Linked DNA regions of Homo sapiens. The protein of the gene in region 1 interacts with the protein of each later gene in a biochemical or structural test. Each region holds a gene or a part of one and is shown on either strand. Other genes may lie near its edges.

Region 1 (3,686 bases):
CTACAAAAATAAAAAAAACTAGGGGTGGTGGTGTGCACTTGTAATCTCAGCTACTCAGGAGGCTGAGGTGGGAGGATGGCTTGAGCCCAGGGAGGTCGAGGCAGCAGTGAGCCGAGATCAGGCCGCTGTACTCCAGCTTGGGTGACAGAGCTAGACCCTGTCTCAAAAAAAAAAAAAAAAAAAAAAGAAGAAAAAGAAAAAAGAGGCTGAAAAAGTAAAGTCCTTTCACTTTCACAAGTGAAAAAGTAAAAAAGTCCTTGAAGACCTCCACAATTTGAGTCCTTCAGTGTGAGGGCCCCTTTGAGCCTGTTAAAAATCCATGTTTGAAAAAAACATACAATAACATTTTGCAGCTTGTTATTTTTGTGGCACTAATAAAGACTTATGAGAGATTATATCTGTTAGCAGAATATTCCTGGATGAGTTTTGCTTCTATATAAAGTTTTTTTTTTTTTTTGCTGTTCTGATAGTTTTGTTTTGTTTTGTTTGCTTTTTGCTCTTCTGAGAGATAAAGGAGACACAGGAAGTGTCACACATCTTGAAGGTCATTCTTGCGATGGGTTTATTGCAGGAGATGATGGACCAAATGGCTCTGACACATGCACACGCTCCTGGGCACGCCTGCTGCGTGCTCGCTTCCCATGACCCCCAGGGCCCTCTATGCCTCCCCCCCAGGGCACCCTGCCCACTGCCCCCACTTCATGTACCACCAAGCCCTTTCCTTTTCTGGGCACCACTCCTGAGCAGCGTGACCAGCGGCCTCCAAGTGCATGTGGCTCAGAACATAAAAGCATCTTCAACATTCGTCATTGAGCCAAACGAAACACAGTGTTTGGCTCAAGAGCCGGCGACAGCCTGCATCCCTATCCACACGTGAACCTGCCCTTGGCTTGTGACCGGAGGGATGGCCGCTCTTCCTTGTCATCCAGCACCCGGAGCATGTATGTGCCCAGATAGATGAGAAACTGTCCCGTCACCTGGGCGGAGTAGGACAGGAACCGCAGCAGACTCCTGTGGCAGAGGCAGATGGGGAGGCTTTAGCTTGGGATTTTGGGCCAGTGAGAAACAGACAGGATGGGAATACTTCACTCCCCCCACCAAAAGGCACTCGGAGGAGGCCAGGCTGACATTTAGAGCATGGCTGTCTGACTCTCAGAGTGCACGTGTCCCAGGGCTGGCACAGATGCAGCTGCCGTGGCAGTGGGTCTGGCCAGGAGCAGGTCTCTGTGAGCTCCCTGAGGACCCCCTTGCTGCTGGCCCAAGACCACCGCAAGAAGCACGGCTCCCATGAGCCACCTGAAGTGCGGCCTGCTTGTTGAGTGGCTGGCAAGCTCTGTGTGGAGCAGATGGCCGCACCCGCACAGGTGTGCTGTGTCCTGGGCTTCGGCTGCTGGGCTGTTCTAGGGGCCCTGCTACTGAAATCCCTTCCCTTCCTAAGGTAGTAGCAGGACATTCAGCAGTGACTGAGCCCATGGGGATGCGATAGCCAAGCCTGGGCAGCTGTCTCATCAGGAGGGCCCACTGCCCCCAGCACCCACAACAGGGTCCCTAGCAGGCGGTGCCTCCAGTGTGGGGGCTGTCGTGAGTTCCATGGCTGCTTGTGGTGTCATCGGATTTATCAGAGAATACAAATTAGTAACAAGAAGGCTGAACTTGTCTTTCAAGAAAGACTTTGTGGCCAGGTGTGGTGGCTCATGCCTATAATCCCAGCACTTTCAGAGGCTGAGGTGGGAGGATCGCTTGAGTCCAAGAGTTGGAAGCTGCAGTGAACTATGATTGTGCTACTGCACTCCAGCCTGGGGGACAGTGTGAGACCCTCTTTCTTAAAAAAAAAGAAAAAGGGCCTGGAATGTGGTTCATGCCTGTAATCCCAGCACTTTTGGAGACCGAGGTGGGTGGATCACCTGAGGCCAGTAGATTGAGACCAGCCTGGCCAACATGGTGAAACCCCGTCTCTATTAAAAATACAAAAGTTAGCTGGGTGTGGTGGTGCATGCCTGTAATCTCAGCTACTTGGGAGGCTGAGCCACGGGAATGGCTTGAACTTGAAAGGAGGAGGTTGCAGTGAGCTGAGATCGTGCCCCTGCCCTCCAGCCTGGGCAGCAGAGTGAGATTCCGTCTCAAAAAAGAAAAAAAATAAGAAAAGAAAAAGAAAAAAGATTTCACTGAGGTGGAATTTTGGGTGAGGTTAGCTTTCTTCATCTTACCTTTTTCAGTTGTTGTAACTCTCTTGCCTAACTTTTAAAATCCAAGTGTAAAGCTATTTTCTCCTAACCCGGCAAAAAGGAAAAGACAAAAAAAAGGAAGCTCTCCTGGGAGTCAAGACTCCAACACTATGACAGTGACTGTAGTTTAGAGTCAGCCACTGATGGCTCTGAATGGGAAACTGAGGCCACAGAGAAGCCACACACCCTGGCCCACCTCAGGTGAGGCCAGGAGACCTCTGAGAGGAGGGCATTTCCCCTTTGCTGTGCTCAGCACAAATCAGAGCAGTTGTCAAGGCCACGGGGGACGGAAACAACACCCTCAAAGAGAAACGGGCGGCCCTGCCCACAGGGACGTGCAGGGGGCACTGGAATGGCAGCAGCTGCAAAACTTTTCGACTTGAAGACCTTTCTACTGCAATCAGCCACTCTCCCATCCACTCCCTCCACAGAGGTTAGTTCTTTAAGGATCAACGGTAAATTTACTGGAGTAGAAGTAGGTGTAGTTAGAGCCCTGGCAATCATAAAGAGCTTGGAAGCAACCTTTTCATTTTATTTATTTTTTGTTTGTTTATTTATTTATTTTTGAGACACAGTCTTGCTCTGTCACCCAGTCTGGAGTGCAGTGGTGTGGTTATGGCTCACAGTGGCGGATCTCAGCTCACTGCAACCTCCGCCTCCTGGGGTTAAACAATTCTCCTGCCTCAGCCTCCTGAGTGGCTGGGATTACAGGCATCCGCCACCACGCCCAGCTAATTTTTGTATATTTAGTAGAGACAGAGTTTCGCCATGTTGGCTAGGCTGGTCTCGAACTCTTGGCCTCAAGTGATCTGCTGACCTTGGCCTCCCAAAGTGCTGGGATTATAGGTGTGAGCCACCATGCCTGACCAACCTTCTCATTTAAAGATGATAAAAGCAAGGCTCAGAGAAGTTAAGGAGTCTGTGAAAGGTCACACAGCTGATTCCTTAGAGCAGGGACTGCTGGTGTTTCTCTCAGTCCCAGGCTCAATGGCAGGGGTGGCACCCAGTTATGGGGCAGGAACACCCAGGAAGGCTCCTTTTGATCACATGGAATTTGTTTGAATGGGTCTGGGGTATGGCTGGATCAGGAGTCTGTCTTCTAAAAGTTCTGTTTCCTGGGATGCTGTGCAACCAGCCTGGCCTTCGTCTTTGGGATGACGGTGCCCTGGCATTATGTGGAGAGGACACACGCCCATGCCACATTACTGGTAAGGCTGAAGTTATCAGGAGTACAGGAGATACATGCAAAGGCGTGTGATTCACCAGGGTCTAGGTGACCGTTCTGTACAAACCCGGCCACGACCTCCATGGCTCTGGTTTTAGTCATCATCACCTAGAATTAAGTGCTCTAGTTCTTAAAATGAATGTGGTTCCTCTTTATATTTATTATTTAGCTTTTGTTTCTAATGAATAGTTAGTGGTCTTTGGAAGAAATAAATCTGTTTTGGCTTGAGATTTTCT
Region 2 (2,534 bases), on another chromosome or scaffold:
CCCGTGACTCCCTCAGCCCGAAACCGTGCCCCACATCCTGGACCCTGGCGCTGCCCACAGTCTCTGGGGCTGGGAACACAGCAGTAATTACAGCGTTCTTGTCATTTCTGTCCACCTGTGCCCCGTGCCCATGAGTGCTGGCATGTAGTAGGTGTGCCACACATGCTGCCCAGTGAAGGAATGAATGAGGGTGCATGTTTCTTCAGTATTTTCTACTATCCTATCACCACCCTCCCTTCCCACCTGGGCGGTGGCTGCAGCTTCCCGAGTCCCTATTCTTGTCCCCTTCACAAAGGCAAAGGGAAGCTTTTAAAACCTAGGTCACATCGTGCTGGTCCCAGCGCTGGCTTCCACTGCTCAAGGTAAAGCCCAAACTCATTCCCAAAACTGACTTGTTCATTCAGTCATCAAATGTCACTGAGTACCTGCCACGTGCCAGGCTCCAGCACTTACATTTGAGAGCCTAGGGGACCGGTCATAGACAAACACATTAGGAAGAGGCCCAGCCTGTCAGAGGGCTGTGAGTTCAATGGAACCAGGCAGTGCAGAGAAGTGTGAAGGGCCCTGCTGAGCCATGGTTCTATTTTACACAAGGCGGGCAGGGAAGGCTGCGCTCTGGGTGACGCTGGAGCAGTGACCAATCCGAAGGAGATGAGGGATTGTGAGGGTGACCAACGTCTGCTGTTCCCATGACTTGGGACGGGGGCTACCCAGGCCATGAGACTTTCAGTGTTAAAACTGGGAAGGTCCTGGGCAAACTAGGACCAGTTGGTCCCCCTAGTTCTGGGCAGAGGAAACTCCAAGTACACAGGCCCTTGGCTGCAGCATGCTGGATGGGTGCCAGTAAGAGGCCAGAGTGGCTGGAACAGGGGGAGAGGGTGAGAGCTGAGGGCAGAGAGTGAGCGAGGCCAGGTCCTAAAGGGCTTTGTGGGCCACAGAGAGGACTCTAGCTCTTCTCCCAGTGAGACGGGAGCCGCGGAGGGTTCTGAGCGGAGGAGGGAAGTGGGCAGCCTTAAGTGCTGACAGGACCCTTCTGCCTGTGCTGTGAGCAGCCCCATCAGGCAGGGGTGGAGGCAGGCGGCCCCTCAAGGGGACCCTGGCAGTGTTCCAGGGTGGTGGCAGAGGAGCGGCTGGGAAGGGGTAGGGTGGGATTCCCGACCTCCTCTCCACCCCATCTCCTTGTGCTCCAGCTGCCTGGGCCTCCCTGTAGTTCCTCCAAACCACCAGCTCTCCCCAACCTCAGGGCCTCTGCAATCGCCAATCTCCTCTGCCAGAAACGCTTCCCTGCAGCCCTGCCCTGCTAAGCTCATACTAAAAGGGTTACTGGGACCGTCTCGGGTGGTGAAAGGGCCGGAGTAAGAGGAAGGGGAGAGGGTGGGGTTTGGACAGATGTCGGGAAATACAGAGAGGTCCCCCAGAGATTGTGGGACAATGAGGGAGCGAGGCCCTGGTGCATGCTCTGCAGCACTAGCAATGCTCCTCCCACCCTTTTCCTAGGCAGTGCCTCTCACTGCCCAGGCCTTCTTCCAGAAGCCCACCCACGCAGGTTAGCGCTCTCAGAGGGCAGGAAGCAGTGCTCCCCTAGACAGTAAAGAAGGCTGCCCGCTTCACAATGGACCGAGCTCCAGCCCGCCTCCCTTGGGTGAGACCACGTTTTGGCGGGGGCGGGGAATGCTTTTCCTAATGCCCACCAAGATGCCTGATGTGGTAACAGGGCTCCTCCCATCTCAACTTCCACTGCAACCCAATGTACAGAGTCGGCACTCAATACATGCTTTTTTTAAAAAATAGAGACACGGTCTTCTCTGTCACCAGGCTGGAATGCCGTCGCACAATCACGGCTCACTATAGCCTCAAGCAATCTGCCCTCCTCAGCCTCGAGTGGCTGGGACTATTGGCGTGCACCACCACACGTGGCACATGCACTCTTACCTCACTCTCACCTTGGCTCAACCCTCACCCCAACTTTGGAGATAAAGAAACAGAGACTCCAACAGGGATGAGTTGGCCCCAGGTCTTCCAGCCAGCAGGGGCGCCAAGCCTCCCCGAAGCCTCCCCTGGGCCCTACCTGCACGGTGGAAGTCGTCCTTGCTGTAGGTGAAGTCCTTCAAGAAGGTGATACACTCTGTCTCGTGGTTGTAGCGCCTGGCTGTCTCTAGCAGCATGATCTAAGGGCGGCAGCGGGAGGGGGAGCTTGAGCCCTGTGACCCTTCAGCTGCTAGTCCCTCCCCTCCTGGCCCAAATGGGGGTCTAATCTCACCAGGATTATCCCTTGTCCCCTTCCCCCCTGTTCTCTCAGCCACACCAGCGTGCAGCCATCACGTGAGACAGCCCGAGCTCTTTCTCCACTTCAGGCTTCCGCACATGCTGCATCCCCATCTCCTTAGGATACTCTTTCCCCAGGTGAGCACAAGGTTTGGGGCACGGGGTTTGATCTGCTTTGTTCTTTGCCCCATATGCCAACACTTGGAATAGAGCCTGGCATACAGCACGTGCTCAATACTTATATGTTATCCCTACTTTGATTCAAATGC

What was found.
Region 2: the proteins of CIDEA (region 1) and NR1H2 form a complex in vitro, tested with the Homo sapiens proteins (one study listed by IntAct).

The regions. Positions count from the first base shown.
Region 1 is NC_000018.10:12,274,448-12,278,133, reverse strand, and holds the end of CIDEA (lipid transferase CIDEA), read right to left. Parts: intron 1,012-3,686; coding exon 864-1,011; 3' UTR 539-863; downstream 1-538. UniProt on the Homo sapiens protein: Lipid transferase that promotes unilocular lipid droplet formation by mediating lipid droplet fusion. Lipid droplet fusion promotes their enlargement, restricting lipolysis and favoring lipid storage.
Region 2 is NC_000019.10:50,379,414-50,381,947, reverse strand, and holds part of NR1H2 (oxysterols receptor LXR-beta), read right to left. Parts: intron 2,169-2,534; coding exon 2,069-2,168; intron 1-2,068. UniProt on the Homo sapiens protein: Nuclear receptor that exhibits a ligand-dependent transcriptional activation activity. Binds preferentially to double-stranded oligonucleotide direct repeats having the consensus half-site sequence 5'-AGGTCA-3' and 4-nt spacing (DR-4).